Linked DNA regions of Homo sapiens. The protein of the gene in region 4 interacts with the protein of the main gene of each other region in a pairwise test. Each region holds a gene or a part of one and is shown on either strand. Other genes may lie near its edges.

The links.
Region 1: the proteins of BNIP2 (region 4) and SLC39A9 interact in binary tests that used the Homo sapiens proteins (3 or more experiments, as listed by UniProt).
Region 2: the proteins of BNIP2 (region 4) and SFT2D2 interact in binary tests that used the Homo sapiens proteins (3 or more experiments, as listed by UniProt).
Region 3: the proteins of BNIP2 (region 4) and DGAT2L6 interact in binary tests that used the Homo sapiens proteins (3 or more experiments, as listed by UniProt).

What each region holds. Positions count from the first base shown.
Region 1 is NC_000014.9:69,450,685-69,457,723, reverse strand, and holds part of SLC39A9 (zinc transporter ZIP9), read right to left. Parts: intron 4,484-7,039; coding exon 4,415-4,483; intron 2,913-4,414; coding exon 2,827-2,912; intron 1,993-2,826; coding exon 1,858-1,992; intron 1-1,857. UniProt on the Homo sapiens protein: Transports zinc ions across cell and organelle membranes into the cytoplasm and regulates intracellular zinc homeostasis. Participates in the zinc ions efflux out of the secretory compartments.
Region 2 is NC_000001.11:168,250,003-168,253,559, forward strand, and holds the end of SFT2D2 (vesicle transport protein SFT2B), read left to right. Parts: 3' UTR 1-3,019; downstream 3,020-3,557. UniProt on the Homo sapiens protein: May be involved in fusion of retrograde transport vesicles derived from an endocytic compartment with the Golgi complex.
Region 3 is NC_000023.11:70,180,470-70,187,508, reverse strand, and holds part of DGAT2L6 (diacylglycerol O-acyltransferase 2-like protein 6), read right to left. Parts: intron 1-7,039. UniProt on the Homo sapiens protein: Diglyceride acyltransferase that uses fatty acyl-CoA as substrate. Particularly active with oleate as a substrate. Has no wax synthase activity to produce wax esters.
Region 4 is NC_000015.10:59,679,318-59,686,356, reverse strand, and holds part of BNIP2 (BCL2/adenovirus E1B 19 kDa protein-interacting protein 2), read left to right. Parts: intron 1-3,842; 5' UTR 3,843-3,899; coding exon 3,900-3,949; intron 3,950-6,048; coding exon 6,049-6,116; intron 6,117-6,588; coding exon 6,589-6,765; intron 6,766-7,039.

The DNA.
Region 1 (7,039 bases), on a different chromosome or scaffold from region 4:
AACGAACTTTAAGTGCTGGTTCAACAGGTTTGGCTTGTATTATTCTTGAGATAGAATCAACAATATATTATTGCAGATATTAAATTTCAGACATAAATTTATTTATTCTACTAATATTTAACAAGCATCATCTATGCACCAGGCTCTGGGCCAGGTGCTTGAGATACAGTGGTAATCAAGATGCAGTAGTTGACCTCATAGAGCCTAGAAATATCTCTTAAGCAGCCGGGCGTGGTGGCTCATGCCTGTAATCCCAGCACTTTGGGAGGCCAAGGTGGGCGGATCACGAGGTCAGGAGTTCGAGACCAGCCTGGCCAACATGGTGAAACCCTGTCTCTACTAAAAATACAAAAATTAGCCGGGCATGGTGGCGGGCGCCTGTAATCCCAGCTACTCCGGAAGCTGGGGCAGGAGAATCGTCTGAACCTGGGAGGCAGAGGTTGCAGTGAGCCAAGATTGCGCCATTGTACTCCAGCCTGGGTGACAGGCAAGATTCCATCTCAAAGGAAAAAAAAAATGTGTGTGTGTGTGTGTGTGTGTATATATATGTATATCTCATAAGCTAATCTTTATAAAACTAATTTCAACCTTTTCTGTTAAAAAAGTAGACCTATGGACTAAGACAACTAATTAAAATTTTAAGAAAAGGACATCCCATAGATGCAGCAAGTAACTCCATGTCTCCAGAATTATCAGCACCTTCCTGTCAAAAGGTTAAAAAACTGACACTGATTACTGAAGTGATAGAGTAATCTGTTAAAGGGAACAACATACTGCTCACTGAAAGAAGAGAAGGCTCTTCAGGTAAATGGAAAGGGTTTTTATAACACACTCTTAGCATCTAAGATCAACAAACCCTTGCTTAACAGGAACTTAGCCATTCTTTATCTCATTTTTCACATGTTCCTATTAATATGGGTTTTACTGCCAAATACTGAATTGACTGATGCTCAGAAGAATCAATGACCTTTAGAGAGGGTGTTGGGGAAAGCAGTTCCCATCAACTAGCCCTGAGTCAGTTTGCTTCTAAGATTTTCCTCCAGTTGCCTGCCAGTTGACATCTGGGTAAAATGCGGAGGGTTGTTGCTCAGAGCTACAGACAGGATTATAAGGCATGGGAAGGTCCAGCTTGGAGTCAGAAGAGCACATGTTACCTCAGGTCTGAAGCTATGTTCAGTACAAAGTATTCAATAGAAAGAACTGTACAGTTACTATCTGGGGACGTGAGAGCTGGGAGAAGAGGAGGAACGTGAAAAATGAGACCAAGAATGGCTAAGTTCCCGTTAAGGAAGGGTTTGTTGATCTTAGTTGCTAACAGTGTGTTATAAAAACCCTTTCCATTTACCTGAAAAGCCTTCTCTTCTTTCAGTGAGCAGTATGTTGTTCCCTTTAAAAGATTACTCTATCACTTCAGTAATCAATGTCAGTTTTTTAAACTCTTGACAGCAATCTCTGCCCAGCTGCTGCTCTTCTCAAAGCGGCTATGTGGCTTGTTACTCACGCTTCAGGTGTCTACCTCACATTAAATATGGACAGATTTGACTTATTAGATATCTGTCAAATGAAGCTAGCATGGCTGGTTACGTTATACTATTTTAAATATTGAAGCGCTATCATATTTATGCAAATATTCTTGGAACTGATTGATAGGGAAGAAGTTTTCAAATTAAATGAATAAGAAAATGCTAATATGAAGAGGACGCATTGGAATTAAGATATTTACCCTGTATAGTTTTTACTCCTAATTTTATCTTTAGTTTGAGAGAGTAATGTATTGGAAAAATTCAATCTAAGAGATCATAAATTCTAAGAGATCACAAGACACTGGTTTAGATAGCTGGGAATAGATTAGCTTACCTTACTCAGTCCTAAGTATGTCACCATGGACATAACTGGTGCTGCCAATGCAAAGACCAGCAAGTGCTTTCTGATTCGATTCCGCTCTAAGCCAGCATGCATCAAGAAGGAAACCAGTCCAAAAGCAGCTGGTGCCTGGAAATAAAAAATCATCTCTTATTATCATTCTAGAAGTATGGGTTGCTTCTACATCAAGAAGTATATGCCATTTGACTATGATTTCTCATACAAAGAAAAACTCACAAAAGGCCAGGCACAGTGGCTAATGCCTGTAATCCTAGCACTTTGGGAGGTCGAGGTGGGTGGATCACCTAAGGTCAGGAGTTCGAGACCAGCCTGGCCAACATGGTGAAACCCCGTCTCTACTAAAAATACAAAAATGTGTGGTGGTGGGCACCTGTAATCCCAGCTACTTGGGAGGCTGAGACAGGAGAATCGCTTGAACCCAGGAGGCGGAGGTTGCAGTGAGCCGAGATCACACCATTGCACTCCAGCCTGGGTGACAAGAGCAAACTCCATCTCAAAAACAAAAAACAAAAAACCCACACACACACAAAAAAAACCAAAAAACAAAACCAGGCAGAGTACAAACGCTGAGCTATGCCTCTTAGGAATTAATGTTCTAAGCCAAGAAAAGATCCTATTTGTGTGTTTCTTGGATAGTAAAAAAGAGAAACAGTCAAGAAAAGAAAAATACTTTTGAACAGAAATTATTACTATGAAATATAAAAATCTGAGGAGAATTTGACAATTTGTGTATATGTCTACACAAAAAAATTGAAACCCCTCAAGGAAAAGCTTAAGAAAATGGGAACAAGAAGCTATGAACAGATTTATTCAATTTTCCAAAATGAATAGCAATTATGAAATGAAGAAAATGTTCCCATTCCAGGAAAAACATTAAGGACCATGAGAAATTTTAATTATGAATACACTCAATACCAAACCTTACACCAAAATGTTGCTTACCTTATGTAGCATGATTGCCACAAACACAATTAACTGGACACTGGTCTGTGAAGTAGATGCTGCTGCTCCCAAAGCAACACCATCAGCTATATTTGGAAACAAGGAAACATAAAATACTATAAACAACAACAACAATAACAGTGTAGTGGTTGAGTGTATGAGCTTTACAGTCAGGTCCAGCTGGATCTAGTAATGTTACTTAACCTTTCTACATGCCAGCCTTATCTTTAAAATGTGTTCAATGAAGTATGTATTTCTTAGGGTTTTCATGAGGATTAAATGAGATAACTTATGTAAAGAGCATAGCATCTGGCCCAGAGTATTCAATGTTAGTTATTTTGGTTGCTGTTGTTGTTATTGGAAAACTAACATTCAATTTTCCAACTAATCAAAAATCCATTGATTAGTTAATCAAATTCTAACAAGGGAAATACCAAAGAAGAATTTCAAAGGAAGCATCTCTTAATCTTATAGGTTAAGAAACAAAATAGTCCCAGCTACTTGGGAGGCTGAGGCAGGAGGATTGCTTAAACCCGGGAGGTGGAGCTTGCAATGAGCCGAATCGTGCCAGTGCACTCCAGCCTCGGCAACAGAGTGAGACTCCGTCTCAAAAAAAGAAATAAATAAAATAAAGATACTAGAACTCTATATAGATGATTACTACTTAATAAGTAAACACTGGTTGAATGAATGAAATTTGTTAGAAAAGCATATTATACTTAGAAAGGGCCAGGTAACAGTGTACCACCTTTCACATGCCTTTCTTTGCCACTGACAGAATTCTATTACTAGGACTAGGTTTGGGTTATGATTCTAAAGTGTACCCTGTCAGCAATGCTAAGATCTCTGCATTCCACTGCATACCACTTCTGCTTAAACTGGTGTTTTGCATATAAACTGGTAACAGAGCTGTTCAGGACAGAAGCGCCAAGGCTCTTTTCCAGATGACATTCTAGAGCCAAGAATGAAAAGAGCAAACTTCTTCTTAAGAGCTAGACAGTAAATATTTGAGGCTTTGCAGTTATTTGGTCTCTTGCAACTGTTCAATTCTGCCACTGTTGCACAAAAACAAAAGAGATGGATCATTGTCATTGTCTATCTCTTCCTCAGCCTCCTGCAACTTTATCTTCATTCTAACATCAGTCACATTTGCCTTTCTCCATTTTTTATTGCCATCACCCTAACCTAAATTTTCATCACTCAAACAAACCTAAATCAGCAATAGGTTCCCTACTCTCATTTTTCCCTAATCAAATTCACTGTCACAAACAATACATAAATACATGGGCAAGGCTGTGTTCCAATAAAACTTCCTTAATTTGAATTATATAATTCTCATGTGCTACAGTATGTTCCTCTCTCTCTTTTTTTTTTTAAACCATTAAAAAGTATAGAAACCATTCTTAGCTTGCAAACCCCTGACACTGAGCACACCAAGCTTGTGCTTGTGTTGGAGGACTTCATTAAGAAACCTTTTCCTCAAAGGCCAGTCCAAGAGCATTCAATGAGGACGGTCCCTGAAATATAAACACTAAGGTCTCCCCTGTGCGATAGAAAACAAAGAAGTTCCACTGCAATCCAACCCTACCTGCAGCATGGACAACCAGACCCAGCGTGGTGGTGATTTTGGAATTGCTAGACCTTGCTGCTTCTGGATCTAAAGTGAAAATGAGAAAGACAGCGTTAAGCTATGTGAGACAGAAACTGTTCAAACATTGGTCTGGAGGTGAAAGAATTTCACTAATGTTGGCCAGGCTGGTCTCAAACTCCTGACCTCCAATGATCCGCCCGCCTCACCCTCCCAAAGTGTTGAGATGATAGGCGTGAGCCACCGCACCCGGCCACTATCTTTTTTCTTTCTGCTTCAAACCCTTAGAAGATTTCCCTGTCCTGAAGAGGTGGCTAAGAGGGAACTCTTCATTTGACTCAGCCCTACCTTAACAGAAAAATCACTGAAATGTGTAACCCCCAATGGCCCCAACTTCCTCCTATTCCTTAATCCTCTTCCTCTACTATTCCAAGGAAAGTGATCTATGGCCTCTGATCATTTCTTTCCAGACCAATCTAATTGTCATTGTCTATCTCTTCCTTAGCATCCTGCAACTTTATCTTCATTCTAACATCTGTCACATTTTTATTGCCATCACCCTAACCTAAATTTTCATCACTCAAACCTAAATTAGCATCAGGTTCCCTACTCTCATTTTTCCCTAATATAATTAATCTTACACATCCGTGTCAGATTCATCGTTTGAAAACACCACCCTTGGCCGGGCACAGTAGCTCACACCTGTAATCCCAGCACTTTGGGAGGCCGAGGCAGGTGGATCACCTGAGGTCAGGAGTTTGAGACCAGCCTGACCAACATGGTGAAACCACGTTTCTACTAAAAAATATAAAAATTAGCTGAGTATGGTGGCGGGCGCCTGTAATCTCGGCTACTTGGGAGCTGAGGCAGGAGAACTGCTTGAACCCAGGAGGCAGAAGTTGCAATGAGCCGAGATTGTGCCATTGCCCTCCAGCCTGGGCAACAAGAGTGAAACTCCGTCTCAAAAACAAACAAACAAAAAACCCACCACCCTTATGATGTGTCAGTTACCATTTAAGAATCTGCTGCTTTTCAAATTCAGGGCAAACTGCTATATTAGATAGGTTCTTAAGCCCTTTATCAACTAGTTCCAACTTATTTCTCAATGTCCAGTCTAGTTAAACCAGTTTGCTTAACACCATCGAACAAAACCTTCTTATTCTCCTTTCCCCAAGTCTCCTCACCTGTAATTCTTGGCACATACTGAACTTCTCAGCTTGTTAAGCCAAAACTTGGACATCAATCAAAGTCTAACTACAGAACCACTTCCCTCAAGAAAGAATAAAAAATTGAAGACTAAGCATGGTGGCTCATGCCTGTAATCTCAGCAGTCTGGGAGGTCGATGGGGGAGGATCACTTGAGGCCAGGAGTTTGAGACCAGCCTGGGCAACATCACAAGACCCTATCTCTACAAAATTTTTAAAATTTAGCCAAGTGTGGTGGTGCATGCCTGTAGTCCCAGGTATCTAGGAGGTTAAGGTGGAAGGATCACTTGTGCCTAGGAGTTTAAGGCTGCAACAAGCTATGCTCATGCCACTGGACTCCAGCCCGGGTGACAGAGCAAGACCTTGTCTCAAGAAAAATTAAAAATAAATTTAAAAAATTGATTCCAGCTCAAAGCAACTCTCCCCTTGCCTAGACCTAGTGATCTATGCAGGCAGTCTTCAAAGGTTCCTCTATACACCACCTCAGATATACAAAGCCATTTTCACTTGAATGTTTTCTATCCCCAGATGGACTGTAAATGCTAAAGCATTAAATTTTCTACCTCTCTTTTCCTTTAACATGTCTGACAGAATGTAGCACAGCACTAGGCACCCAATAGTTACTTAATAAATCCTTGCTGAAGAGTGAAAAAAGCATTTATGTGTATTAAATAAAGATGTTACTGCTCTTGTAGGAAACATACAAGTAAATAAAGTTAAAAGATGGGGACATCAAAATGCCAGGTAAAATGACAGATGAACATCAGTCAAGTAAGTTACAGGGGATTTAATCTTCTTAGGAGTCCAGCATACAAAAGGAAGGGGTTTACAATGGAAAAAGTATACAAGTAAAGTAAGATATTACCTCTTATTAATAAATGATATTTTCCTATTAAAACACTGCAAAGAAGGGAAGCTAAAGACCCTAATCACTCTGCGCCAGCAAATAGCTCAATGCTACCCTGAACTGGAAGGAACAGTCAAATTACACTGTGTGCAAGCTGGCTCTGGCCTTTTTTTATACAAAGGCTTATCATCCAGTTATACTTAGGATCTTAAACAATTAGAGGCTTTAAAATTAGAAAGTTTTTATAAACCTATAAAGACTGCAGTTTAGCATAAATTTAATAAATACATTTTATTGACATTTTATAATACATAAAACTCTGCAGAAAATAGGTAAAACCAGGTCATCAGACACGAAAGCCAGCAAAAATAATGACTTCAGAGATAAAACAGGAAGAAGAATAATGGAACACAAGCTACATTTAACTCTCTGTATAGGATTACTGGCTACTACTGCGCCCACACATTTTATTTTTATTTTTTTAGAGACAGAGTCTTGCTTGTTGCCCAGGCTGGAGTGAAGTGGTGCGATCACAGCTCACTGCAGCCTCGAACTGAAATGATTCTCCCTCG
Region 2 (3,557 bases), on a different chromosome or scaffold from region 4:
GTGAATGGTATTGCCTCCATCCTCTGAGAAGGTAAAGAGCCTATCCCAGACCCCACGAGTGGAGGCGTCAGGGAGGGGTTCTTGGCAGGAGATGGGTCTTGTAGAAAGGCTTCTGCTTTGCTTTCACTCACGGCCTGTGGCCAGTTTGCTCAGACAGCTCCCATCAGGACACCATTGGCAGCTTTTGCATGACCCTGCCTCCCAGGGTCTTCCTGCGTTTTTCCTTAAGTTGCCTTATTCTTTGGTTGTTTCCCTACTTGTTTTTGTTAGACTGTGGGAGGAAGAAATCCATTTCAAATCTGCTGAAACCTGTTACCAAGCAACAGCAGTGATTAAAAGCAACCTGATGAGTGAGTAAAGAATTAGGGTTTCAGACCTGTAGTTAATGATGGTCTCTGTCTCCCTGCTGCCCTGCATTCCCTTCCCTTCCGTTCACTGCTGGGTGAAGGAGGGCTTGCTGCATTTTGGAAGTTAAGGGAACCAATAAGGTGACTCTTTTGCAGATTGGAATATGGTGCTCAGCCAGCCATATGGAAGCACTGTCCTGGCGTGATCTGCCCTGGGCTGTTGGCTCTCTGAGTGCTGTCTTGGGAGGAGCACTGCCCTTCAGAACAGAAGAGATGGCTTCCAGTCCCCTCTCCCCCTTCTCCCAGTCTCTCTGAGGCTGCTTGTTGGGTATTGGGCGTGCTGTGTACTAACTCACTCCCGTCTCTTGTCTCATTATCTGAAATGCATCCCCTTTTGCAGAAAGGGCTCAAACGGAGCCTTCAGTTCTGCTCCTCTGCATAGCCGTAGCTCAGATCCTAGCTCAAGATGTCTTGTCTGGGAAGGGCAAAACATGGTCCCCAGTGTAGCATTTTCACTGGGTTGATTATCTCAGTGGTGGATCATCTATCACCCTTGTGTGGTGACTTTGTGAATTATCTGCCTGAGTGCCACTTCCCTTCCACCCTAATCACTGCAGGCTCAGGGAGCAAGAAATAAAATCATGAAATGCATTCCAAATAAAATTACCTTTTGGCTGGGTGCAGTGGCTCACACCTGTAATCTGAGCACTTTGGGAGGCTGAGGTGGGTGGATCGCTTGAGGTCAGGAGTTCAAGACCAGCCTGGCCAACATGGCAAAACCCCATCTCTACAAAAAATACAACAGCAAAAAAATCAGCCAGGCTAGCTGGTGTGCGCCTATAATCCCAGCTACTTGGGAGGGAGGCTGAGGCACAAGAATTGCTTGAACCCAGGAGGTGGAAGTTCAGTGAGCCGAGATCGCACCCCTGCACTCCAGCCTGAGCAACAGAGTGAGACTCTGTCTCAAAAATAAATAAAAAAAAAAATCACTTTTTGATACTTCTGTTAAAATAGATAATAAGGAACCATATCTTAAAGTGTGGAGGATCTGGCTTGGCTTCTGTTTTTGATAGCTCTATGAAAGTGACAGATTTGCATCATGAGACTTAGTGGAATGAATTGGGAAATTGAAGGGCAGCCCAGTGGCTATGGATTCTATTTTCTATGGGACTGTCTACGCCAGGCTTTATTTTCTCTTTGCTCAGATAACTTCTGACTAGAGTCGACGGTAGGATTATAAATGGTTTAAAATACGTATTCTCAAACCTCATTTTCAGCATATAAATTTTTAAGAATCAGTGTTTAAAGGTACGTGAAACCATTTGCTAGATTTTTGTCCTAGTTTTTTTTTTTTAATTTAAAAATCTTAAGTTTTTTTTAGTAAGCTTAAGATGTCCAGTAGTTTATTTGCAGACAGCATTTTTAAAAAGTGAATAGATGTTTAACTGAAGTTAAATACAAATTTATGTCTGTGTAACTCTTGGTAAGATATAACAAAACCTAGACATCTAAATTTTTTGGAAATTTTTATTTTAAAAGTTTGTTGGGAGGTAAAATTGTGTGACTTTACCTTCTGGTTAATAGTTTTATAGTTAAGAAGAAAGTCCAGCGAAGTTTACTTGATCTCAGTTGCACTCAAGAATAGGGGATTTAGTTCCACTTTGGTTATTTTCACTTCTACCCTAAATTCATAGTCCCTGATACTTAAGCTTTACCCTTGGCTTACCAGTTTTCATTGCAGCGAGTAAATGGGGAGTAGCAGAGCCTTTGTTAATGTAAATTGACAAAAAGTATGTCCTTTTCTAGCAGGAGCAGATAAACTGATAATGGTCTTAGAAATGTAGAAAATGATTTTTTGTAGACAGGATGATCTGTCTAGATTGTAGCAAATGATGGTACATATTCACAACAAAGTTGTGCCACTACATTTAATAAACAGCCACAAACAACAAAAGGACAACTGGTCCCCGATATAAATGGACTAGCTACCTGGACATAATATCCTTGTGAGGCATCCTTAAAGGACAAATTGCAGCTGGTATTTGGGTGAATGTTGTTGCTCTGTGCCTGTTGAATGTCCATGCTACAAGAAGTTATGAGCCTTGTTCTAAGTACAGATGAACCTTGTATTTGTGTAATCTCCCAAGGGAGAGCTATGGTTTACATTCAATTTTTTGGTCTTTCTGCTATGAAACGTGTTTATTTTGCCTCTGTCAATGTGTTTGCAACCTTAAGTAAGGAAAGGGAAAAAAAAAATAGCCCTCTGAACTCTGATCTTTTGCCGCTTCTGTAGATTTTGATTGTGAAGTTGGGAGTGAGGACATTCAAAAGCCCATGGTGAATGCATATGCCTTTAGAATATTGTGCCTGTTTTAAAATGTTTGAGCTTTTAAAATACGTTGTTAAAACATGAATCCATTTTTGTAATTGTATAAATACTCATAACTAATTTTGAATGCTACTGATTGTGTAACTGAATTTTTGTATCCAAAAATACATTCTTGAGTACTACTTTTCCTACCTTGAAAATCTATTTCATTTACTAAATATTGTTTTCTTTATGCTAACTTAACTTTAAAAGGAATGTTGCCAAGCTGTCTCTCCTCCCCCATCACAATTGTTAGTTTTTTTTGCTTTCTTTCTTCAATAAATGATAGCATTATGATCTTTAATAAATCTAGTGTTGTCTCTTACTCATGTCTGTATTTCCAGGAGTCTTTAAGCCAAAGGAAGACTGTAGAACTGTAAGAAAAAACCGTATCTTTAATTTGAATTCTCAGTGTGTAGCACACATTATAGGCACTTAAAGATGTTTTGGGGGACCTAACCTGACATGTAGTCCTCTCTTTTAAATGACTTAGGGTTTCACATGGGTCTAGGGACAGTTTGGAAGGTTTTTAAAAAGTAAGACATTTCCTTAAGTGTTTATTTTGGAAAAAAAATACACACACACATACATACATACATACATACATACAAACAAATAAATATATATATTTTTGAGATGGAGTCTCACTCTGCTGCCCAGGCTGGAATGCAGTGGTGTGTTCTTGGCTCACTGCAACCTCGGCCTCCCAGGTTCAAGTGATTCTTGTGCCTCAGCCTCCGAAGTAGCTGGGATTACAGTAGCGCACCACACCCAGCTAATTTTTGTATTTTTAGTAGAGACGAGGTTTCACCATGTTGGCCAGGCTGGTCCTGAACTCCTGA
Region 3 (7,039 bases), on a different chromosome or scaffold from region 4:
ATAAATATGGTTTCCTGTGGCCCTTAGGATCAAGTCCAGTCTCCTAACCCTGGCTTAGAAGGGTTAGGAGATCTTGGTGATCTAGTCTCTGGCCACCACCTTGTTCTTTGCATTCCACCATGCTATTTTTTTCAGCTCCTTCAAGTGCTCTCTAGCTTCAGGGCTTCTCTGCCTGCGGTCCCCTTTGCCTGGAAAACTCTCTCTTCAGCTCTGTGTCTGGCTAGTTCCTATTCATCTTTCAGGCCTCAAGATAAATGTCATAGGTTCAATATTTTTAGGCCATCTTTGACTTCTTTCCCTTTCCAAACAAACAAACAAACAAACAAACAAACAAACAAAAAACTTCTCCTATCCGTCTTCCTGCCTCTGTCCCCATTGCTACTGCTATGGTCCAGGACTTGATTTTTTTCTAGTCTGGACTGCAGCCTTTTGTCTGCCCTTCAGCTATGGGTTTCTTCCCCTCCAATCCATTTCCCACACCTCTGCCAGAAATTTTTAAAAAGCACAATCACATAATGTTGTTTGCTTCCTCCAAAACCATCAATATTTTCCAACTGCTGACAGAATAAAGTCTGAACACATTGGCTTGGTATTCAAGGCCCTCACTGGCCTAGCCCCACGTGTCTTCCTAGCCTCATCTCTCAGTAGCCGTACTCACATTCCTTATGCTGCAGCCTAGTATTTCTCAAAGTGTTTCGTAGCCTAGTGTTCCCATGCCCTGTAGGGACATTAGATGATCCAAGGTGGTGTATGGATAAAAAGTTATTTTAATGCATAGAGAATAAAAGCAAATTCATGGTAGCGATATAAAATTTCCTGTTAAAATACATTAATTTAGGCTACAGAGATGACTTAATTTGAAGGAAAAGTATGTTAAGTAATAATAGCATAGGTGGTACACAGCTGTGGAAAGAGCCAGAAGATGGGACACAAATGGCTAAAGTATGGGAAACGGGCCCGACCACCTTTGTCTACTTCCCATTCCCTCAACTCACCATGTAATTCACATTTCTGTGCCTTTGATGATACTGTTCCCTTATTTTTATTACTCTCTTTCCAACTTTCTGCTTATCAAAATTCTCTCAGGCTTTATGGTTTAGCTCAAATGACACTTCCTTGTGATATCTTTGCTCATCTCCCGGTCAGAATTGAGGACTCCCTCTTCTGCACACTCCCAAGACATTACTCGTGCTTCTTTCTGGTTCTGGTTCATTTTGTTTGATGGTGTAATTAGTACCTCATATGTCTGTCTCTCTCCCTATCAGACAGTAAGTTTGGCCTTTAGCACAGTGCCAAACACAGAGAGATAGCTTATGATAAATGTTCATTACATTGAATTATAGTAAAGGAAGAAGTTCAATTTCACAATTCTCCAAGTTGCAGGTGAAAGTTAATAGGAAGAGAAACCGTATTCCAAACAAGGAAAGGCTATCTGAAGTTATAAGGTGTGCATGTGTGTGTAAGGATATAGGCAACGAGTTATTTCCAGTGTAAGGTGAAAACCTATAATTCTTATGGGTGAAAACATTATGTTTCATGTTTCGGGGCAATGACCTAAATCTGAATGTTGGCAATGCTTGCCTAATCTAGTCAGTTGGCTCAATGCCTTCAGAAATTTAAAAAAAAAAAACAAAAAAACAAAACAAAAAAAAAACAAAAGTAGTTTGTCAAAGAGGAATTTCTGTGGCTTTGTGATTACTTGTTGGATCCAAATAAACTATAAATATAAGAACTTGTAGGAGTGACAGGTAATTTAATAATTCAGTAAACATTGATGAGCCTACCTCATATGAAATCTCTATGTTAAAAGCCATGGGGACAGGGTTGGGAACTGGAAAGGGGAGGGTGAAAGGAGTAAATATGGAAATGATGAAAATAATGCAAGCATGGTCCTTGATACCATGTATTGACCATTTGTTGTGAAACAGCACTCTGTTCAGCACTTAATGTATATTATCTCATTTAATGTTCTTGCAGTCCTCATAGGTGGATAATTTTATTATCTCGTTTTACAGATGAAGAAACTAAGAATCAGAGAGATCATGTATCTTTACTCCAAGCTGTAGGAAAAAAAGTAGATAGCATTCATTATGTGCCAATAACTATTTTAAGTACCTCATGTGTATTAACTCACATTAATACGTGTGGAAAACAAAATTCCTGTCTTGGAGAAGCTCTGGGTTTCTTGTGAAAGATAAGGTTCAAAGTTGAATTTTGGAGGAAAGGTAGGATTTTTGTCAGATGGATTGGTAGAGGAAGGGTCCTCCATGCACAAAGAAGAGCCTGAACAAAGTCCAGGAGATGGGAGAGTCCAAGGCCTGGGAGTAACATCATTACCTGCAAAAACACAGGCAGCCTAAGGAAGCCGTGGTACAGGAGATGAAGCTGGGAAGGAAACTGGAGAGATTAGGCCTGATGCTGAAGGAAATGAATAGCCAGTAAAGGTTAGTAAGCAGAGAGCAGAAGAGTAGCATGATCGTGTCTGTTTCAGGAAGATAATCTGGAATAACTGTGAGAGCAAGAGAAACTATAGGCAAAGAGATCAGCTAAGAGTTTTGGCATTCAGATGAAAGCCAATGGGAACCTGAAATAGGCTACTATTTCACATACCAATTTGAAAGTCACCAAGGAGGTAGAATTTTTCAGCCCAACGCAGCTGAGTTGATGCTGGGGTGATGGAAGGGGATTAATGAAAGATGCCGTGATGGGGTATGTGGGAATGCTGGGAATGCATCAAAGTCTAGGCCAGGCATGGTGGCTCACTCCTGTAATGCCAGCATTTTGGGAGGCCAGGGCAGGAGGATCCCTGGAGTCCAGGAGTTCGAGACCAACCCAGGCAACATAGTGAGACCTCGTCTCTACAAAAAAATTTAAAAATTAACCAAGCATGGTGGTGCACACTTGTAGTCCCAGATACTCGGGAAGCTGAGGCAAGAGGATCGCTTGAACCCAGGAGTTCGAGGCTGCAGTGAGTTATGATCATACCACTGCACTCCAGCCTCAGCCTGGGAGACAGAGCAAGACTCTGTCTCCAAAAAAAAAGAAAGAAAATAAGAAAAAGAAAAAGCCTGTATCTGCTTTAGTTATCATTATTCTTCCTGAAGATGTAATAAAGTCAGTGTCTAAGGTGTCTGCCTCAGAGGAGTGGTTGTCACTCCTCTCTTGATCAAGTGGCAAGATTGACAAGGTTGGTAGTATCTTATCAGGTGTGGTGGTTGGGCTCCAAGTAGTCAATTTCGGTAGTTAAAAGGAAGAAAATTAACATGTATTGAGGATTTTCTCACCTCAAAGATCTCTGGAACAGTCTTGAGAGGCAGGTACTATGCTGTTTCTGTTATGGTACAGGGTGAATGACTTACTTGCTCAAGGTCACATAGAAAATAACAGAGACTCACTTGCATAAGGTCTCATAGCAAGTAAGTGACAGAACTGGTCTGAAGACTATGTTCTATTTTTATTTATTTATTTTGAGACAGGATCTCACTCTGTCACCCAGGCTAGAGTGCAATAGCGTGATCACAACTCACTCTAACCTTTACCTCTTAGGCTCAAAGGAGCCCCCCATTTCAGCCTGCACAATAGCTAGGACCACAGGCATGCACCACCATGCCTGGCTAATTTTTTGATTTTTTTTTTTTTCTGTAGAGATGGAGTCTCACTGTGTTGCCCAAGCTGGTCTCAAACTCCCAGGCTCGAGCGATCCTCCCACCTCGGCCTCCAAAAATATTTGGATTACAGGCATGAGCCACTGCACCCAACCTGTTCTATTTTTTACAGTACCAGAAACCAGAGAAAGAGGGCAGGCCCACACACCCAAAAAGGATGTCCAAGGGAGAGAAAAAAGAATAAGAGTGAATTTAAAGATTTCTGCTGAGGAAGAAGAAATCTGGAAGACCTTCAAGTTAGTGTCAAGCTTGGTCTTGCATGAAATATAATAATGATAAGAAAGGGCTCCTGTTCTCATGGAGCTTATTGGGTAGAGGGCACCAAAGATATAATGGCTGCTACCCAGCCATTCTTACAAAATGCTCTAGACTTTCAGAGGCGATATAGTCTTGGGTTGTCTGGAAAATGTTACAGAGAAGATATGACTTGAGTAATATCTAAAAGGAGGCGCTGTCCCTGGATAGTCCAGGAAGAGCTATCATGCCATCTTTCCACTGGCAGGAGTAGTGGGAGTAGTGGGAGCAGAGGTGAAGGAGTGGGAGAGTACATTTCCTGTTTGTTTAGTGAATAGATTGCCTGGAACGCAAGGCAATCACGTAGGGAAGAGTAGGAGGACGAGCTGGCAAGGGGTTAACACCAGAGAATGGAGGAGGGCTTTGAATGCCCAGTCTGATACCTTTATACATCATCACTTAGGCAATGGGAAACCACTGACTATTTTTGAGCAGGAGAGGGATGTAATCAAATATGCTTTTGAGGCGGTGGCTCACGCCTGTAATCCCAGCACTTTGGGAGGCTGAGGAGGGCAGATCACCTGAGGTCAGGAGTTCGAGACCAGCCTGGCCAACGTGGCAAAACCCTGTCTCTACTAAAAATACAAAAGAAATGGTCGGGCGCGGTGGCTCACGCCTGTAATCCCAGCACTTTGGGAGGCCGAGGCAGGCGGATCACAAGGTCAGGAGATCGAGACCATCCTGGCTAACACGGTGAAACCCCATCTGTACTAAAAAAATACAAAAAACTTAGCCGGGCATCGTGGCGGGCACCTGTAGTCCCAGCTACTCGGGAGGCTGAGGCAGGAGAATGGCGTGAGCCCGGGAGGCGGAGCTTGCAGTGAGCCGAGATCGCGCCACTGCACTCCAGCCTGGGCGACAGAGCGAGACTCTGCCTCAAAACAAAAACAAACAAACAAAAAATTAGCTGGGTGTGGTGGCACACACCTGTAATCCCAGCTACTCAGGAGGCTGAGGCAGGTGAATTGCTTGAACCCGGGAGGCAGAGGTTGCAGTGAGCCGAGATTGCCCCACTGCACTCCAGCCTGGGCAACAGAGTAAGACTCCGTCTCAAAAAAAAAAAAAAAAAAAAAAAAAAAAGATGCTTTTGAAAGACCTCCAGAAGTAAGCACTGGAATAGATTGGAGAGGGTGGAGATCAGAGGTTAGACGATCAGGAAAAAGGATATTGAGATAGTTTAGGGGGATGGTGATACAAGCCCGGAAGAGATGAGGGAAAGCCATCCTCTGAATGAAAGCTGGCTCTCAGAGGGGCTGTCAGAGCCACAGCCTAATTTTAAGGACATGAATATTTGTGTTCCAAATCTCCTCCAAGCCATTTTCTCGTTCCTCTCTTCTTGCTTCCTCCTTCCTTCTTGTCCCTCTGCCTTTCCTCCATTTTCTCTATTTCCTCCCCATTACTTCCAGTAATGCTCAGTAATCAGCTATGATTCTGAACATCATTTGGGAAGGAGGGGAAGCACTGAGGGAGGCTCTGAGCAAGATAGAAGGAAGGAAGGAAAGAAGGTGAGAAAGAAAAGGAGGAAGGAAAGATAGGCGAGAAAGAAGAGGAGGAAGGAAGGGAGGAAGGCAGACATTTCTGTAGGAGCATTTCCCATGGACCAGACTGAGAGGATGGGGATACTGAGACTTAGAGGGATTGCAGTACTTGCTTGGAGTCACATAGCTAATTGCCATCTAAGTCTGATGAACTCCAGAACTCATGTCCTGTTTGCCATTCCACGGTGATTCCCTTTCCTGTCTCCCCTGATCTGTTCAACTTATGTAATAATTTCTTATTCCGATACCCTAATATCACTTTGTCATGGCTCTTTCACTCACCACAGTCTGTCTTACATTATAGTGATCTGTGTATATGTCCAGCACTGGCACATAAAATGCGGACAATGATTGAATGAATGATTGGTTTATCTCTGTTACTAGATAGTAAGGAGGCTGCAAGGATCTCACAGCAAGGACAGCCCAAGATCATATCATTAGTATTTAATCTATAACTGTTGGATTGAACATATTTGAATGTCTTAGGCACCTCTGTGGGCATCACGCCCTGTTGGACACTGAAGCTACCTTGGTAACCTTCAAGACCCAGGATTTGTGTTGTAATTTCTAGCATAATCACTAAAAGAACAGAAACAAGATGTATAGCACCTAAACTAGAAGAGAAAGACAAATGGAATGGTAAAGCTAATCAGTCTAAAAGAAGTCAAATCAAATGGCCAACAGGCACATGAAAAGATGCTCAACATTACTGATCATCAGGGAAATGTAAAGCAAAACCACAATGAGATCATCTCACACCCATTGGGATGGCTATTATTTAAAAAACAGAAAATAAGAAGTATAGGTGAGGATGTGGAGAAATTGAAACTCTTGTGCACTGTTGGTGGGAATGTGAAATTGTGCAGCCATTGAGGAAAACAGGATGGCAATTCCAAAAAATAAAAATAAAAACAGAATTACTGTGTGATCCAGGAATTCCATTTCTGGGTATATATCAAAAGCATTGAAAGCAGAGTCTCAAAGAGATGTTTGTACATCTATGTTCATAGCAACATTACTCACAATAGCCAAAACGTCAAGGCAACCTAAATGTCCATCAATAGATGAATGGAAAACAATATGTGGCATATCCACACAAGGCACCGTATAACTCAGCCTTTCAAAGGAAATAAATTCTGACCCATGATACCACATGGTGAGCCTTAAAGCCATTATACTAAGTAAAATAAGCCAATCATGAAAGGACAAACACTGGAATAATAATTCCAATTATATGAGGTACCTAGAATAGGCAAATTCATAGAGACAGAAAGCAGAATGGTGGTTGCCAGGGGCTGGAGGGAGGGGGAATTAGGGAGTTATTGTGTAATGGATACAGAGTTTCAGTTTGGGAAGATAAAATTCTGGAGATGGATGGTGGCCATGCATTGTGAATGTACTTAATGACATGTACTTAGAGCATACTTAGAAATGGTTAAAACGGTAAATTTTATGTTCTAGGTATTGTACCACAATAAAAATAACTTTTAAAAATGAAGGTGAAAAAAAATCCCGTTTATTCTTTATTTTTATTTTTATTTT
Region 4 (7,039 bases):
GCTAGGCTTGAACTTCTGGGCTTAAACCATCTTCCCACCTTGTCCTCCAAAGGTGTTAGGATTACAGGAGTGAGCCACTGAGCCTGGCCTAAATGTGATCTTAACATTTAATTTTTGCTTATGTTGCTAAACTGCCTGGGGAAAGCTGCTTCATCCTGGTTGGATTTACCAGTACTCCTCCCCCTTGAAGCTATGTCAGAAGGAATCAATTATCTCTTTGATTTTTAACCTAAGGTCAACAACTGTTTTGAATTTATCTTTATGACTGCAACAAGTAAGTGGCATAAGGATGTGCCACCACTACCAAGAGTCAATCTATTGAGAAATCAAGTTATTCCTGTGCCAACAGGTTATTTTAACAAATATCATCTTAAAGTGTTATTTCCCATTCTAATTTCCAAAAAAAAATACATGAACAAGAAATGGGAAGCAACAACAGTTAACTTGTGAGTCAGCAGTATCCTGATTTTCTTCGAAGAGGTTGTGGTTATATTAACTCCTTTCTTGTTTGTTTCCTGTTCTTAACAGCTGTTTGATGATAAAGTGCTTCCAAGAAACAGTACTCCCTCAATTGTTTAAATTGTTTTGATCTACCTAGTGTACTTTTCCCCTAAAATTCATGATGAAATGGTAGAGTAAATCTATCTATATCTCTCTCCCCAAGTTCTGTTTAACTAGATAATTGATTATCCTCAAACTAAATATCCATGTCTATGTGCTGAGGTATTAACACATGATTCAATATGATATTAAGGTAAAAATGGAATAAATAGGCTGAGATAGCTGAAAGACTTGGGCTGCCTGTGTTTCGAGGAGCTATTTAGTTTTTGTTGTTGTTTGTTTTGTTTTGTTTTTTGAGACAGAGTCTCCCTTTGTCACCCAGGCTGTAGTGCAGTGGTGCAATCTCAGCTCACTGCAACCTTCACCTCTGGGGTTCCAGCGATTCTCCTGCCTTAGCCTCCATAGTAGCTGGGATTACAGGCAGGCGCCACCACGCCTGGCTGATTTTTTGTATTTTTTGTGGAAACGGGGTATCACCATCTTGGTCAGGCTGGTCTCAAACTCCTGACCTCAGGTGATCCGCCCACCTCAGCCTCCCAAAGTGCTGGGATTACAGGTGTGAGCCACCACGTCCGGCCTCAAGGAGCTGTTTTCACAGAGACAAACTTGTTCCATTGGTTAAGCAGCTGAAAGGAATGGATTGTCTTCTAGAATTTCCCAAGATAAACCTTTCCTCTTACCAGTGAGGAACAATTTTACAAATAGAAATTAATATTGCTGGTGTGTAGTTTCCCACAGAATATTTTTGTTACATTTTTATGGGGTAACACATGACAAATCCTATTCATGTAGTTTAATAAGCAAAATAAGCCTAAGAGATTGAGCAAAGGTTTGCTGACCAGTGTCCATACCCTACAGGTAAGTATTATTTACTTAATTTTTATAGGCCTGTTATGTGCTAGGCACCATGGTAGGTGTTGGGAATATATTGGGTACAACTTTCAGTTTCTGCTTTTATTTTTGAAATGCTAAATATTTTTCTGAGTATTTGAGATATTTGAAAAAGACACCCAGACAACATCCTGGTGTGTTTTTCAACACACAATAAAAAGGTACGACAAGATAATAGAAAGCTTTTCTGATTATTGAATTTAGGAAAATACATCATTCGCTTTAGAGTGAGTACCAAAGACTTAAGAAAAGTTAAACATTGGGAAATACAGTAAATTAAACATCTAGAAAAGACTTACCAGTTTTCAGCCTTTAGTCATAGCATGCTTTGGTCTCACTTGAGCATTGTAATTCTAGAGTAGTAAGTATTTTCACCATTTGGGCTTGTTGATTGTAATTGTGGGCTCCTTTCTACTATTTCTGTTCTAAACAGAGGGGATTGTTTGGTAAGGTAGGTGTCCCTCTTTTTGTTTATTTTTCCCTCCCAACAGAGAAAGTGCTAAATAAGTAAAGATTATTTTAAATGTTTTTCATTAACTTATAAAAACTGCCTAGATCATTGTTTTCCCAGAGAATTAAAAACCTTACTCCTATATGTAAATGACTTTTTCAAGCAAATAAGTTGGTGTGGAAAAGTCAGCATCTACCATTTTTTTTCTGTGGTAACAAGTGTATCATCAAACATTGAAACCTTTTGGGAATGTTTAAAACCTTCTCTTGAGGGTAAGTAAAAATTCAAACTGGGAAGAGAGTCTTCCAGCCTTGGCAGAGATACAAATTTAGTTTACCTTGTGAAATCTAACACTTCAGGATATTTCCATTGTAATTTTGTCATTACGGAACATAAGGCTTTTTTCTTTGTAACTTTGTGCATCTTTTGAATGTTGACGTAGCAGATAAGATAGCTATAGGACATGACCACATTTTTCTTTTAGAAGACTGGTTGATGTGAATGGCTGACATAATTGATTTTATTTAATAAATATCTTTTAAAGTCACAGATAGTATTGTTTTAAAAATCAAATGGTATAGACGGACTTACTATGAAAAGCATTAGTCATTTTCTGCATTTCACCCTCTTTCCTCTGCTACTGGTTTTGCTCTGTCACCCAGACTGGAGTGCAATGGTGTGACCTCGGCTCGCTGCAACCTCCACCTCCCAGGTTCAAGCGATTCTCCTGCCTCAGCCTCCCAAGTAGCTGGGATTACAGGCGCCTGCCACCACATCCGGCTAATGTTTTTGTATTTTTAGTAGAGACTGGGTTTCACCGTGTTGGCCAGGCTGGTTTTGAACTCCTGACCTCAAGTGATCCGCCCACCTCGGCCTCCCAAAGTGCTAGGATTACAGGCGTGAGCCACCGCGCCCGGCCTAGTGTCAACGACTTTTAACTTTATTTTTAGTACTGCTAGTGATGCTCCGTATCTCTTAAATATGTTACTGCAAAAAGAAAAGAAAAGAACAGAAATATGTTACTGCTGTTTGTTGAATAACTTTAGACATCTATTGACTTGAATGTAAATGAACTAAATACTCGTGTATACCTCTTTCCTTCTATAGTTTTCACTGTTTTGTTGCATTGTTAACCAGTTGATCTTTACCTTACCTCAACTTCTATTTCTTACTCCATCACCAGAGGGAGTATCTCTAGATTTCTTACTTTTAAAATGAGGATATTGGACTCACGTGATTCCTTGGAAAAACTAAAACTAAAGTTCATGGCATATGTTAAAATACGTAGTTGCATAAAAGGGCATTCACCAAGTTCAGTGTTTGAAAACATATGCCGAGCTATATGAGAAGGGCATAGTATAGATATGAAACAAATCAAAAGATTGCATAATTCATTTACGGGACAAGTTATTGAATAGACTTCTTTAAGTGGCTCAGGAATTGTGGCATCAAACTATTGAGAAGGAAATATGAAAGACAGCACACCACCTGACTCTGCTGAATCATGAGTTTAAATATTATTGATTTACTATTATTTACGGTCTAGAATCAACCTCTATCCAAGGGACAGAAAATTTAATTATGAGTCTGTAATAAAGAACATTTTTATTTCTTACCCCACTTCAAATTTTTTAATATAATCCATAGTATGAAATATATTTTCAATCATAACCTGAGATACTATACATGCAACTGAAAACAAGTATTTTCACTGAACAGTATCCTTACTATAAACAGTATTTAACTTTCCCAGAATATATGTAGTCTGAGTATTCTCTTTTCTTTAAAAAAAAAAAAAAATTGCAACCCTGTAAATGAATTTCATGACCAGACCATTGTACTAAACATCAAGTATGAACTAATATATAAGATTATTACGCCTTTTCAGTGGATAAAAAGTAAAGTGGAAATTAAGTTATACATTTTTCTCTCTTCATAGGACATTGGCTCCCTGGATTATCAAGAGTTTGTAGTTGACATTGAATCCAGGCTGAGGATGGAAGGTGTGGAACTTAAAGAAGAATGGCAAGATGAAGATTTTCCGATGTGAGCAATGCTTTTAAAAGAAAACAATTTTAGAGCAAAAGTTCAAAATTTCTTTATCGAGATGTTACTTTTTTTTTTTTTGAGACGGAGTCTTGCTCTGTTGCCCAGGCTGGAGTGCAGTGGCGCGATCTCAGCTCACTGCAACCTCCGCCTCCTGGATTCAAGCAATTCTTCTGCCTCCACCTCCCAGGTAGCTGGGACTATAGGTGTGCGCCACCACGCCTGGCTAATTTTTGTATTTTTAATAGAGACGGTGTTTCACCATATTGGCCAGGCTGGTCTCAAACTCCTGACCTCGTGATCTGCCTGCCTTGGCCTCCCAAAGTGCTGGGATTACAGGTGTGAGCCACTGCACAGCTGAGATGTCACTGAGAAACTCAGTAATACAAGGCGATCATTTGATACTAGGAAGTAAAGTTTCTTCGGAACAGTTAGATTGATTCTCTTGTATCTTACTTTCCAACCAAGTATATATATAATCTTCTATAATCTTTCATTTTTGTTTTGGTCACTTAAGTTTGCAAATTTTTGCTTTTATAATAAAGTGTTTTAGTGTGGTTTGTTTGTTTTGTTTTGTTTTTGTTTTCATTTAAACAAGATCTGAGGGATTCCTCAGAGAAGGAGGTCTTTAGTTGTCTTTAAAATGTTTCTTTAATTTTGTGGCCAGGTGCGGTGGCTCACGCCTGTAACCCCAGCACTTTGGGAGGCCGAGATAGGCAGATCACTTGAGGCCAGGAGTTTGAGACCAACGTGGCCAACATGGTGAAACCCCGTCTCTACTAAAAATACAAAAAATTAGCCAGGCTTGGCGCTCGCCTGTAGTCCCAGCTGCTTAGGAGGCAGAGGCACAAGAATCACCTGAACCCAGGAGGCAGGGGTTGCCGTGAGCCAAGGTCGCGCTGCTGCACTCCAGCTTGGGCGACCGAGCAAGGCTCTATCTCAAAAAAAAAAAAAAAAATTTGTGGGTTCCCCCCCACCAAAAAAAAAAAAACCTTACTAAGTAAATTAATAAGGATTTTCTAGCTTATCTGGCCAGCCACCTTGACATGTTTGCATTTGTATTTACAATTATATTGGCACCAGGTAGGCTAATGAAAAAGAGAGCAAAGGCAGACCTTAAGTTTAAATAGTGCTTCCGTGCCGTACTTGTCAGAAGACATCCTAGTGCATAATCAGGTGCCTTAGCAGTTGGATAGCTTAGCAGTTGGACAGCTGATCGGAGACCTGAGTCACTGTTGCATATGGTGGTGATAGTAAATATAGGAATGCTGATCTCAGAAGAATTGAACCATTGTTACTGTAGTCTCGTGAGTAAAAATTGAGCTTCATACATTGCATCATACATCACATTATATTTGTGCATTTCAGTCATATTTGTTTAAAATTGTTACATGTTTTATAATTGTATAAGAGCTGTTGCATAAGGAATTTATATCTACTTTTATGTGTTACTTATATATAATAAGTGTATAAGTCAGCTCTGACAGTCAGAATTTTTACTTTGAAAGTGTAGCCAGGCATAGCACGTCACGCCTATAATCCTAGTGCTTTGGGAGGCCGAGGCAGAAGGATTGCTTGAGACCAGCCTGGGCAACATAGCAATATCCGGTCTCTACCAAAAAAACTTTTAAAATTAGCTGGGCATGTTGGTGTGCCACTGTAGTCCTAGCTACTCAGAAGGCTGAGACTTTATCTTAAACACTGCTAGGCTGGGCACAGTGGCTCATGCCTGTAATCCCAACACTTAGGGAGGTCAATGCACGAGAATCGTTTGAGCCCAAAAGTTCAAGGCCAGCCTGGGTAACATAGCAAGACCCTGTCTCTACTAAAAATTAGCCAAGCGTCGTGGCACGCACCTGTAGTCTTAGATACTCGGGAGGATCTCTTGAGCCCAGGAGTTAAGGCTGCAGTGAGCCATGATTGTGCCATTGTATTCCAGCCTAGGTGACAGACAGCAAGACCCTGTCTCAAAAACAACAACACTGCTTTATTCCATTTTCCAAATAATTATTTCTATAAGCTGTATGTTTAATAGATTGAACTTCAAAAAAAAATTCTTTCTTAATTTCTGGATTAAAAAGTATGCCTGTGTCTTCTAGACCTTTACCAGAAGATGATAGTATTGAAGCAGATATACTAGCTATAACTGGACCAGAGGACCAGCCTGGTAAGAGCTTGACACTTACTTTCATTGAAATTATGGACTTTGTGTTATTTTTTAAAACACGTTTCTTTGTCCAAAAAAAAAAAAAACTTGAGTTTTTATTCCATCATAGAAGTCAAAGTATAAGTTGAACATTGAGGAAAGCATTTTTAGAATGCTTTAAAAAAAATTCCAAAAACATACACTTGGTTTTTGGAAAGTTTTACAGTAAAGGGGTGGAGGAGATCATTTTTAGTGGTAAGAGGTATCTATAAGGTCTGCCTCTATTTAAAAGACATTGATACTTTATTGATCTCTTGCCAACGATGTAGAAGCAATAATGATCAGAATAAAAATTTTGTGAATAGGTGCTTTGAAATTATGTTCAATTAATATTATTTTTTCCCAAGAATGGGGTAGTTAAAATTTTTCTTATTCAACTTTAGCATCTAAGCATTCCTTGTTACGTATCTTTTTCTTTATTTTCCAATTCCAGGCTCACTAGAAGTTAATGGAAATAAAGTGAGAAAGAAACTAATGGCTCCAGACATTAGCCTGACACTGGATCCTAGTGATGGCTCTGTATTGTCAGATGATTTGGATGAAAGTGGGGAGATTGACTTAGATGGCTTAGACACACCGTCAGAGAATAGTAATGAGTTTGAGTGGGAAGGTAAATGTTTCACTGTTTTTAATCTGATCTTTATTAATGTACTAAGGGATTTTGTTTGAAATACATCATTCTTTCTAAAGTTCATATATTTGTTACTAAGATAGGAAATTGTGCTAACCCTTGAATATTCTCAAGGACTTAAAAAGTGTGTATAGAGTACACCAGTGGCTTTTTTCCCCTCTTATTTGCCCACTGCTCTCATGTTTTTTTCATAGCTGTTTCAAAAATATTTCTTGATAATTATGGCATGCTCTTTTTTAGTCAATCAAGTAAG